Homo sapiens: one gene and its partners. The gene in region 1 interacts genetically with each later gene. Each region holds a gene or a part of one and is shown on either strand. Other genes may lie near its edges. The genes, in order: TCOF1, LIAS and MASTL.

Region 1 (2,706 bases):
TATATACACTGCACCCAGAGCTCCCCACCTTGCCTGGACCCCCTGACCAGGAAGGGCCGAGTGTGGGTAATCATCAGTTGAATGTCTGCATGGCCCCCACTTTTATTATAAATCTACAATGTATCATAGGAAGCCTTACTGTTCATCCACCCCTCACGTTATAGACAGGGAAACCAAGGCCCTGGGAGGAGATGGGTCCTGGCCAGAATCACACTGAAAGTGGGTGGGAAAGTCAGACCTAGAACCCAGGTCTCCTTCCTCCCAGCTCCAGACTCCATCTCCCTCCTTTCTGAATTTTCATTCCATTGATAGATTTCAGGCCCTTTCATTAACATTCTGGAGTCATTTTCTGTCCCCCACCCTAACTGGAGTTTTTAGTATAAAGAGACAGGGAAAAGCTGTAAGTTAGAAATGAAGTCAGGGTGTGAAATTGGTGGAAAGGTGTGAGCTTAGGAGACCAGCTGGGGCAGAGTGACCGCCAAGCCTTGCTCTCCCCATCTGTGCCATTGTAAGAAAAGATGGAGTCACTCCCTGCACCCTCTTCGCTCTTAGGTACCATAAGATCTGTCCCCCAACTCTCCCAGATCTGTGACCCCACATTCTCTCTCCATAGGTGGAAAAGAGGCTGCTTCAGGCACCACACCTCAGAAGTCCCGGAAGCCCAAGAAAGGGGCTGGGAACCCCCAAGCCTCAACCCTGGCGCTGCAAAGCAACATCACCCAGTGCCTCCTGGGCCAACCCTGGCCCCTGAATGAGGCCCAGGTGCAGGCCTCAGTGGTGAAGGTCCTGACTGAGCTGCTGGAACAGGAAAGAAAGAAGGTGGTGGACACCACCAAGGAGAGCAGCAGGAAGGGCTGGGAGAGCCGCAAGCGGAAGCTATCGGGAGACCAGCCAGCTGCCAGGACCCCCAGGAGCAAGAAGAAGAAGAAGCTGGGGGCCGGGGAAGGTGGGGAGGCCTCTGTTTCCCCAGAAAAGACCTCCACGACTTCCAAGGGGAAAGCAAAGAGAGACAAAGCAAGTGGTGATGTCAAGGAGAAGAAAGGGAAGGGGTCTCTTGGCTCCCAAGGGGCCAAGGACGAGCCAGAAGAGGAGCTTCAGAAGGGGATGGGGACGGTTGAAGGTGGAGATCAAAGCAACCCAAAGAGCAAGAAGGAGAAGAAGAAATCCGACAAGAGTGAGTGACCGCTTCTCCCAGCCCACCCCAAGGGCTGCTGGGCACCCCACGGGGGCGGGAGGGACCCTCAGCCAGCACCTGGTCTCATTCCTCCCATGTAGAAAAGAGAGGCTGAGACCAGCCTGGCCAACATGGCAAAACCCCGTCTCTACTAAAAATACAAAAAATTAGCTGGATGTGGTGGCGGGCACCTGTAATCTCAGCTACATGGGAGGCTGAGGCAGGAGAATTGTTTGAACCCGGGAGGCAGAGCTTGCAGTGAGCCGAGATCACGCATTGCACTCCAGCCTGGGTGACAGAGCAAGACTGTCAAAAAAAAAAAAAAAAAAAAAGGCTGAGAAGTGGTTTGTCCAGAGTCACAGGGGCAGCTTGTGGCAAAGCCCGAACTCGATTCCAGAGCACTTGAGTCAGCACTGCCAGGAATGCTCCAGAAGGACGAGGAGTCATGTCCTCTTTCCCCAAGCCCAGTGCAGCAGATCTTGGAGGAACCTGCTTCTCCAGCCAGCTCCTGGGTGCAGAATGGACCAGGAACCAGACTGTCAGAATCCTCATCCCAAACCCCATCTTGTCTCTAGACCTCAGTTTTCCCTCCATAGTAACACTGGCCCTTTACTGAGTGCTGTTCTAGACTCCGCATGCAGCAGGACCTCATTTAGGTAGAAATGAGACTCAGCAGGTAGAAAACTGCGGCTCGGGCTCGGAGAAGTAGAGATGCTGTTCAGGGCCACAGAGTTTTGCTAGGTGGAGCCAGAGTCAAACCTAGGCAGCACTCTCGAGCATCGCCCTGGACGGTGGGTTGCCAGTGACGCCCGAAGAGCCAGCTCGTTCTGGAACAAAAGTCGGGCACCCTCAGAGCAGGACTTGCAGCCCCTTGGTGCTCAGAACTGTGCTAGATTTCCATTTACAGTAGGGATAGATAGTGTCCATTTAAAATAAATTTGCGGGAGTTTTAAAAAGTGAGTTGAGCTAAAGAAAAATGGTAGTCATCCAGGTGGTCCATGGATGGGACAGAAATCATGAGCTGGCCTCCAGGGGGCAGGTGAACTGGCCCTGCTGGGTGATCACCACAGCTGCCAGCCTGTTTTATTTTTATTTTTTGAGACAGGGTCTTGCTCTGTCACCCAGGCTGGAGTTCAGTGTCAGGAACGCAGCTCACTGCAGGCTCAGCCTCCCAAGCTCAAGCGATCCTCTTGCTTCAGCCCCCCAAATAGCTGGGACCACAGGCGTGCACCACCATCCCCAGCTAATTTTTGTATTTTTTGTAGAGACAGGTCTCACTATGTTGCCCAAGCTGGTCTTGAACTCCTGGGCTTAAGCAATCCACCCGCCTCAGCCTCCCAAAGTGCTGGGATTGCAGGAATGAACCTCCACGCCCCGCCCTGCTGGCCTGTTGTGATGGCTTCTGGTGGTGTGGGGAAAGCTGGGAGCCCTGCCCTGTGCACCTCCCAACATTGACCCCAGCACTTAGGATTACCATCTGTTGTTCAGGAACTTTACTTTACTTCCCTTAGGAAAAAAAGACAAAGAAAAAA
Region 2 (3,658 bases), on another chromosome or scaffold:
TAATAATTTCAGTAATTAAGACTAATCATTGGCAAGTAACACTGATGTAAGAAAAAAAGTAAGGATTGTTATCCACATCCATTCAAATTTTAGAAAAATGAACATTTTAAGCTTCGGGCAAGAGTAATATCATTTTTTTCTTTAATTTTAGCATTTAGCAGTGATTTTATTAGCTTCTACATATGATCTGTGTCATAGAGCCTGAAAGAAGTTACAGTAAACAATAACCACCATTTTCACTAAATCATAAACAGTAGAGACCATAACTTAATTTCAGTGGAGAAATTCTGTTAAAAAGTGATTTCTATAATGTCAGTTTCAGTTACTTTTAAGTTCATAAATTTGTTTCTTCTCTTTCCTGTTAACTAGTCTCCAATGAAAAACAATTACAGAAAATAAAGCTGCATTAGAATTGAAATGAAATCCAGTTTAACATCAGAAGCTTTCTGGCCTTTTGGCTTAAAGGATAAGTCATTTAAGCCATGGTGGTTTGGCCATTGTTGAAGTCTAGGACACAGCCTGTTCCAACCTCATCATGATACCACCACCAGTGGGTGCCAGTTTCCCTGGTTTCACTTAAAAACATGATCCTTTCCAGTGAAAATTCCAGAATCATGCATTTCTTTACCTAATATGTGGCAGTGTTGTATACTTACCAGCAGAGGGCAGCTTAGTCTTCAGAAAAGAAATGAACTTGAAAGTTTCAACCCTCTGACATGTGGGTTCAGCTTATTTTTTTCTTTGTTCAGTATGGAGACTCTCTTACTTCTGCTTTTTTTCCTTTCTCTTCTAATTTTTCGCTTCAGAATTCTGGTTTCTCAATGCATAAACTGAAGTAATTTCTTCCATTCTACTTTTCTCTGCCCCAGGCTTGAGATAGAACTAGGGAGCCCAGTGAGGCCTTTTCTTTCCTAAATTAACAGGCATCTGTGCATAAATGCTACCTTTGAACTATGTGATTTAAGATAATGTGCAGAATGTACTTCTCTGGTCTTTCAGGTTGCTTGCATAACTATGTACTTGGTTGAACTTGTAATTCTTGCTGACAACAGTCCTGCTGTTTTCCAGTAAGGTTCGTGATCCTCGGGCCAATTTTGATCAGTCCCTACGTGTACTGAAACATGCCAAGAAGGTTCAGCCTGATGTTATTTCTAAAACATCTATAATGTTGGGTTTAGGCGAGAATGATGAGCAAGTATATGCAACAATGAAAGGTAAAGAAATTGAAAAATGAAAAATCTTTCCCATGTAATTTGAGTAATAGCAGGAACCCACTCACTTTGAAGGCCCTTCTAAGAACAAAGAAAAGTATATGGTTATAGATGGCAGCATGAAAAGGAAACCAACTTGCACATGCACCCTCAAATCTAAAATACAAGTTAAAAAAAAAAAAGCAAAGGAAATAAATTTTCTTGGAATTTCATGGAGTGATATGCATGACGCTCAGGATACAAAATTTATATCCCATTTTATTCCCCATCCTTTGCATCCACTGAAAGCATGATTTCATCCACTTTTCTCATTCTATCATTGGACACTTTTGGAGAGCCAGCCTGGTACCAGGCACTGACAGTTCATAGATCAATGAGACTAATCCAGGCCTCTGAGAAAGAGCTTACTTGTAGCATTGTCACATAACATGGTGTGCTTTGGACTTTGCTGAACTTTAGTCCCGTAAGTCCATTTGCTTTGTGATTCTTGGACTTTTTAAACTTTGGAATTTCAAAGTTTTAATTTTAGCTGAGGACCCTTGGACTACTTGTAGTTATTTAGTGGTTCAAAGAGTAATAAGTTCATATAATAATCAAGACCTGCTGTTTACCACATTGCACACAGTTTATTAGAAAGATTCTGATATGTCATAGTTTAAATCACAGCCCCCATAGCATATCTTGTGCATTGAGTAAAAGCCTAATGCAACATATTTGCTCTATAATATAGGTGCATTGAGGTTTTTGCATATACCATTTCCCATACCTTTTCTACCAGACTCCTACTCTAAAATACCCTCCACTACTATTTTAGCATTGATTCCATAGTATTAGAAGTATTTATCCTTGTATGTATCAGCCCTACATGACTGTCTTAATTATTATTGTTTTCAGTCCTTACCACAGTCCCTGGCACATAATACTTTTGAATGAATAGATGTTGTCTTATTCCCCAACATGAAGATTATGGACTGTCATAAAGTTCACACCGTTTTTAAATATTCCTTAGGAAAATTATGCTTAGATCTACAATTAAAGTATTTGCTAATGTAATTTGTGCTTTTCTTCCTACAGCACTTCGTGAGGCAGATGTAGACTGCTTGACTTTAGGACAATATATGCAGCCAACAAGGCGTCACCTTAAGGTACATGTATCTTGATTTGCTTTTTTTTTTTTTTTTTATTTTTAAAGATGGAGTTTTGCTCTTGTCGCCTGAGCTGGAGTGTAGTGGCACAATCTCGGCTCACTGTAATCTCTGCTTCCTGGGTTCAGGTGATTCTCCTGCCTCACCCTCCTGAGCAGCTGGGACTACAGGCGGGTGCCACTACATCCGGCTAAAATATACATATATATAATTTTTTTTTTTTTTTTTTTTTTTTTTTGAGACGGAGTCTCGCTCTGTCGCCCAGGCTGGAGTGCAGTGGGGCAATCTCGGCTCACTGCAACCTCCACCTCCCAGGTTCAAATGATTTTCATGCTTCAGCCTCCTGAGTAGCTGGGATTACAGGCACACACTACCACACCCGACTAATTTTTTTGTAGTTTTAGAGACAAGATTTTGCCATGTTGCCCAGGCTGGTCTCGAACTCCTGAGAGCTCAGGCAATCCACCCGCTTCGGCCTCCCAAAGCGCTAGGATTACAGGCGTGAGCCACCGCACCCAGCCAATTTTTTATATTTTTAATAGAGATGGGGTTTCATCATTTTGGCCAGGCTAGTCTTGAACTCCTGACCTTAGGTGATCCACCCGCCTCAGCCTTCCAAAGTGCTGGGATTACAGGTGTGAGCCACTGCGCCCAGCCCATGTATAGCTTTTGACTCCCAAAAAAACATAACTACTAATAGCCTTCTGTTGACCGGAAGCCATACCAATAACAGTCAATTAACACACATTTTGTATGTTACATGTACTTATATATATACGTATGTGTGTGTGTATATCTGTATATACACACACACATATACACACACACACACACACACACATATATACACATCTTATTCTTATGATAAAGTCAGCTAGAGAAAAAATTTTTTGAAGAAAATCATAAGGAAAAGAAAATATATTTACTAGTCATTAAGTGGAAGTGGACCATCATAAAGGTCTTCATCCTCATCATCTTCATGTAGATGAGGACAAGGGAGAAGAGGAGGAGTTAGTCATGCTGTCTCAGGGGTGGCAGAAATGGAAGAAAATCCTTGTATAAGTGGGCCTGTGCAGTTACCATGTTGTTCAAGGCTCAGCTGTATTCTTATAAGTCCCAGTTTTCATTTTATTATCTACATAAATCAGCTACGTTTGCACATATTTGCTGCCTCCCCCATTCTCTTCACAAATTTCACAACTCAAGTGAACCTAGAGAAAAAGAATTTAAAAGTTGGGAAATGGCACTCATTTACACTTGGTTATTGTGTAACTTGTTTTTGTTATGTTAGAGCCAGAGGCG
Region 3 (3,658 bases), on another chromosome or scaffold:
GCATACGAGTCCTTGAGAAAGCTGTGATGTTTCAGACAGACAGGCTGAAAGGATGTTTGCAGGGTCTTGATTTTTTTCTGCAATTGGTGTGTTCTATTAAAAAGAGAAAAATAAAAACAACAGGTTTACCTTCCCCAAAACACCACCTAAGTACATAGACTGTTATACCACCTAAGTAGACAAACTGTTAAAGTAAATCCAAATGCTTGATATTTAAATCTATTTTGATCTTTTTTTTTAAAGGTGATTTTAAATTTTAAGTGGTGATCATGAAGGGGTATGTCATGTTAATTTTCTTCTCAAGTACTTACAAATCCCAACGAGCTGATAAGCGATAACACTTGTCCTGGGGTTCTTGAATAATCTTGTCTAGGTTTTGCCATTGATGGTGTTGTAAGGATATCCATCATATTAATATCTATGTATGCAAAGAAAAGTATATAAATGTATTTAAAACCTTTACCTCCCATTGACTAAAAATGAATGTTATGTATATGACAACAAAACAATTTTTTGTAAACCAAATGTTAAAAAAGGAGACAGTGGCTGGGCACGGTGGCTCACACCTATAATGCCAGCACCTTGGGAGGCTGAGGCAGATGGATCACTTGAGGTCAGGAGTTCGAGACCAGCCTGGCCAACATGGTGAAACACTGTCTCTACTAAAAATACAAAAAGTAGCTGGTCTTGGTGGTGGGCGCCTGTAATCTCAGGTACTCGGGAGGCTGAGGCAGGAGAATCACTTGAACACGGGAGGCGGAGGTTGCAGTGAGCCGAGATCGCGCTACTGCACTCCGACCAGGGCGACAGAGCAAAACTCTATCTCAAAAACTAAATAAATAAATAAGGAGATGGTATGGAATCAATATTAATTTTAGGCCCCTCACGTTAGCTAATATGTTTAAGCCTAGGTCAAGATAGAAACTGACCCAGATTATTAGCATGTTTCAGTGCATAATATTTTAAAATAATTCAACACTGACACATAATACTATACTATTCCACTTAGATATAAAAAATGGTAAGAGAAGTCTAATGTTCTTATCCAGGCATGGTGGCTCACATCTGTAATCCTAGCACTTTGGGAAGCCAAATGGAGAGGATCCCATGAGCCCAGGAGTTTGAAACCAGCTTGGGCAACATAGTGAGACCTATCTCTACAATTTAAAAACTAGCTGGGCATTGTGGCAAGCACCTGTAGTCCCAGCTACTGGGGAGGCTGAGGTGGGAGAATTGCTTTTCCCAGGAGTTCAAGGCTACAGTAAGCTATGATCACATCACTGCACTCCAGCCTGGGTAATACAGTGAGACCCTGTCTCTTAAACAAACAAAAATAATCCCAGAACTCTAATGTTCTTATAGGACTTTTTAAAATTAGCTGGGTGTGGTGGCTCATGCCTCTAGTCCCAGCTACTCGGAAGGCTGAGGGACAAGAATCGCTTGAGCCTGGGAGGCAGAGGTTGTAGTGAGCCTAGATCATGCCACTGTACTCTGTACTCCAGCCTGGGTGACAGAGCAAGACTCTCTCTCAAAATAAATAAATGAATGAATAGGCTGGGCGCGGTGGTTCACGCCTGTAATCCCAACACTTTGGGAGTCCAGGGCGGGTGGATCACGAGGTCAGGAGATCAAGACCATCCTGGCTAACATGGTGAAACCTCATCTCTACTAAAAATACAAAAAATTAGCCGGGCGTGGTGGTGGGTGCCTGTAGTCCCAGCTACTCAGGAGACTGAGGCAGGAGAATGGCGTGAACCCAGGAGGTAGAGCTTGCAGTGAACTTAGATTGTGCCCCTGCACTCCAGCACTCCAGCCCGGGCAACAAAGCGAGACTCTGTCTCAAAGAAAAAAAAAAAAAACAAATAAGTAAATAAATGAAAGTATACTGAAAGTTTTAACAACAAATGTCATTTATGCCTCACATTGATGAAGTGATAATAATAATACACGTATATGATATTTTACAAAAAAAGTTTTATTAAAATTAGACCCTTATGATAAACAAAGTGACTTAAATTTATCAACAATTTTATCTTAATGCAAAATTTTTGTCATTTGTGATATTTTCCAATAGCTTATCTGAAATCCTTAGAATCAGATTTCGAAATAAGATTTCAAAGTCAGATTTCTTTGAAATCACAATTCAAAAATGTTTAGATTTTAGAAAAGTAATGTGGTAAATATACTGCATATTATGAAATATCCCTAGTGGCAAATCATATGAATAATCACATGAACTGGAATCAACAGACTATAAATACCCCTGGCCAGGCACGGTGGCTCATGCCTGTAATCCTAGCACTTTGGGAGGCCGAGGCGGGTGAACCACCTGAGGTCAGGAGCTCGAGACCAGCCTGGCCAACATGGTGAAACTGTGTCTCTACTAAAAATACAAAAATTAGCTGGGCGTGGTGGCGGGCACCTATAATCCCAGCTACTCAGAAGGCTGAGGCAGGAGAATTGCTTGAACCCGGGAGGTGGATGTTGTAGTGAGCCGAGATCACGCCATTGCACTCCAGCCTGGGCAACAGAGCAAAAACCCCATCCCAAAACAAACAAACAAACAAAAGACTATAAATACCCCTACATCAGCATAGATCAGATTTTACCAAACTTAGTAAAAAGTTTTAGGTATTCATAACTGTTGAACTTTGTACTTCCACATGAAGAATTGTAGATCTGCATATATTTTCAAATATTAATAGTTATAATTCCAGAGTTTTTAAGTCCAATTTCTGGTTATTTTCATTATTAATACTTTCCCATCCGTCTACACTTTCTAATAGAGAATACAATATGTTTCTTTTTTTTTCGAGATGGAGTATCGCTCTGTCCCCCAGGCTAGAGTGCAGTGTCGTGATCTTGGCTCACTGCAACCTCTGCCTCCCAGGTTTAAGCAATTCTCCTGCCTCAGCCTACTAAGTAGCTGGGACTACAGGCGTGTGCCACCACACTCAGCTAATTTTTGTATTTTTAGTAGAGATGGGGTTTCATCAGGTTGGCCAGGCTAGTCTAGAACTCCTGACCTCAACCTCAAGTGATCTACCCGCCTCGGCCTCCCAGAGTGCTGGGATTACAGGCATGAGCCACGGCACCCGGCCAAGAATACAATATGTTTCTAAGTTGATAATCAATCATTTATCCATGTTTCTATGATGAACTTAAGTAATTTCTAGTTTCTCCCTATTAGAAACAATGTTGCTACAAGTGATTTCATTTATGTGTATTTTGTTCATTTGAACAATTTCCTTAGAATAAATTCCAAAGCATAAGCCACTAGATCAAAGAGAATTAAAAACTTTTATATTTAAAAACATATTGGCAGATTTCCTCCAGAAAGCACTATGCTAATTTACAATGCCCCCAGAAAAATATTAGTGTGCTTTTTTGGTAGTATTACTAACTGGACCATCGGTATTCCTTTCTTTTGCCCATTTAATAGTGTAAGATGGTTCATTTACTCTTTCTTATATTAGCATTTATTTAATTACTACTAGTGAAAAGAACACAGTCCCATATATACATATATGTGTTAACTGTGTATTCATTTTCTTTGTCCTTTTGTTGATCAAGGTCTTAGTGGTGGCCGTGTATATTTGAATATGTTTTCAGTTATTAACCCTTCATCATGTTATAGTTATTCTGGTCATTTTACTGA

The links.
Region 2: changes in TCOF1 (region 1) and LIAS together harm fitness more than expected from each alone (negative genetic interaction), as found in Homo sapiens cells (one large-scale study listed by BioGRID).
Region 3: changes in TCOF1 (region 1) and MASTL together harm fitness more than expected from each alone (negative genetic interaction), as found in Homo sapiens cells (one large-scale study listed by BioGRID).

What each region holds. Positions count from the first base shown.
Region 1 is NC_000005.10:150,395,669-150,398,374, forward strand, and holds part of TCOF1 (treacle protein), read left to right. Parts: intron 1-613; coding exon 614-1,174; intron 1,175-2,685; coding exon 2,686-2,706.
Region 2 is NC_000004.12:39,468,951-39,472,608, forward strand, and holds part of LIAS (lipoyl synthase, mitochondrial isoform 1 precursor), read left to right. Parts: intron 1-1,068; coding exon 1,069-1,214; intron 1,215-2,285; coding exon 2,286-2,356; intron 2,357-3,658. UniProt on the Homo sapiens protein: Catalyzes the radical-mediated insertion of two sulfur atoms into the C-6 and C-8 positions of the octanoyl moiety bound to the lipoyl domains of lipoate-dependent enzymes, thereby converting the octanoylated domains into lipoylated derivatives.
Region 3 is NC_000010.11:27,161,824-27,165,481, reverse strand, and holds part of MASTL (serine/threonine-protein kinase greatwall), read right to left. Parts: intron 419-3,658; coding exon 312-418; intron 94-311; coding exon 1-93. UniProt on the Homo sapiens protein: Serine/threonine kinase that plays a key role in M phase by acting as a regulator of mitosis entry and maintenance.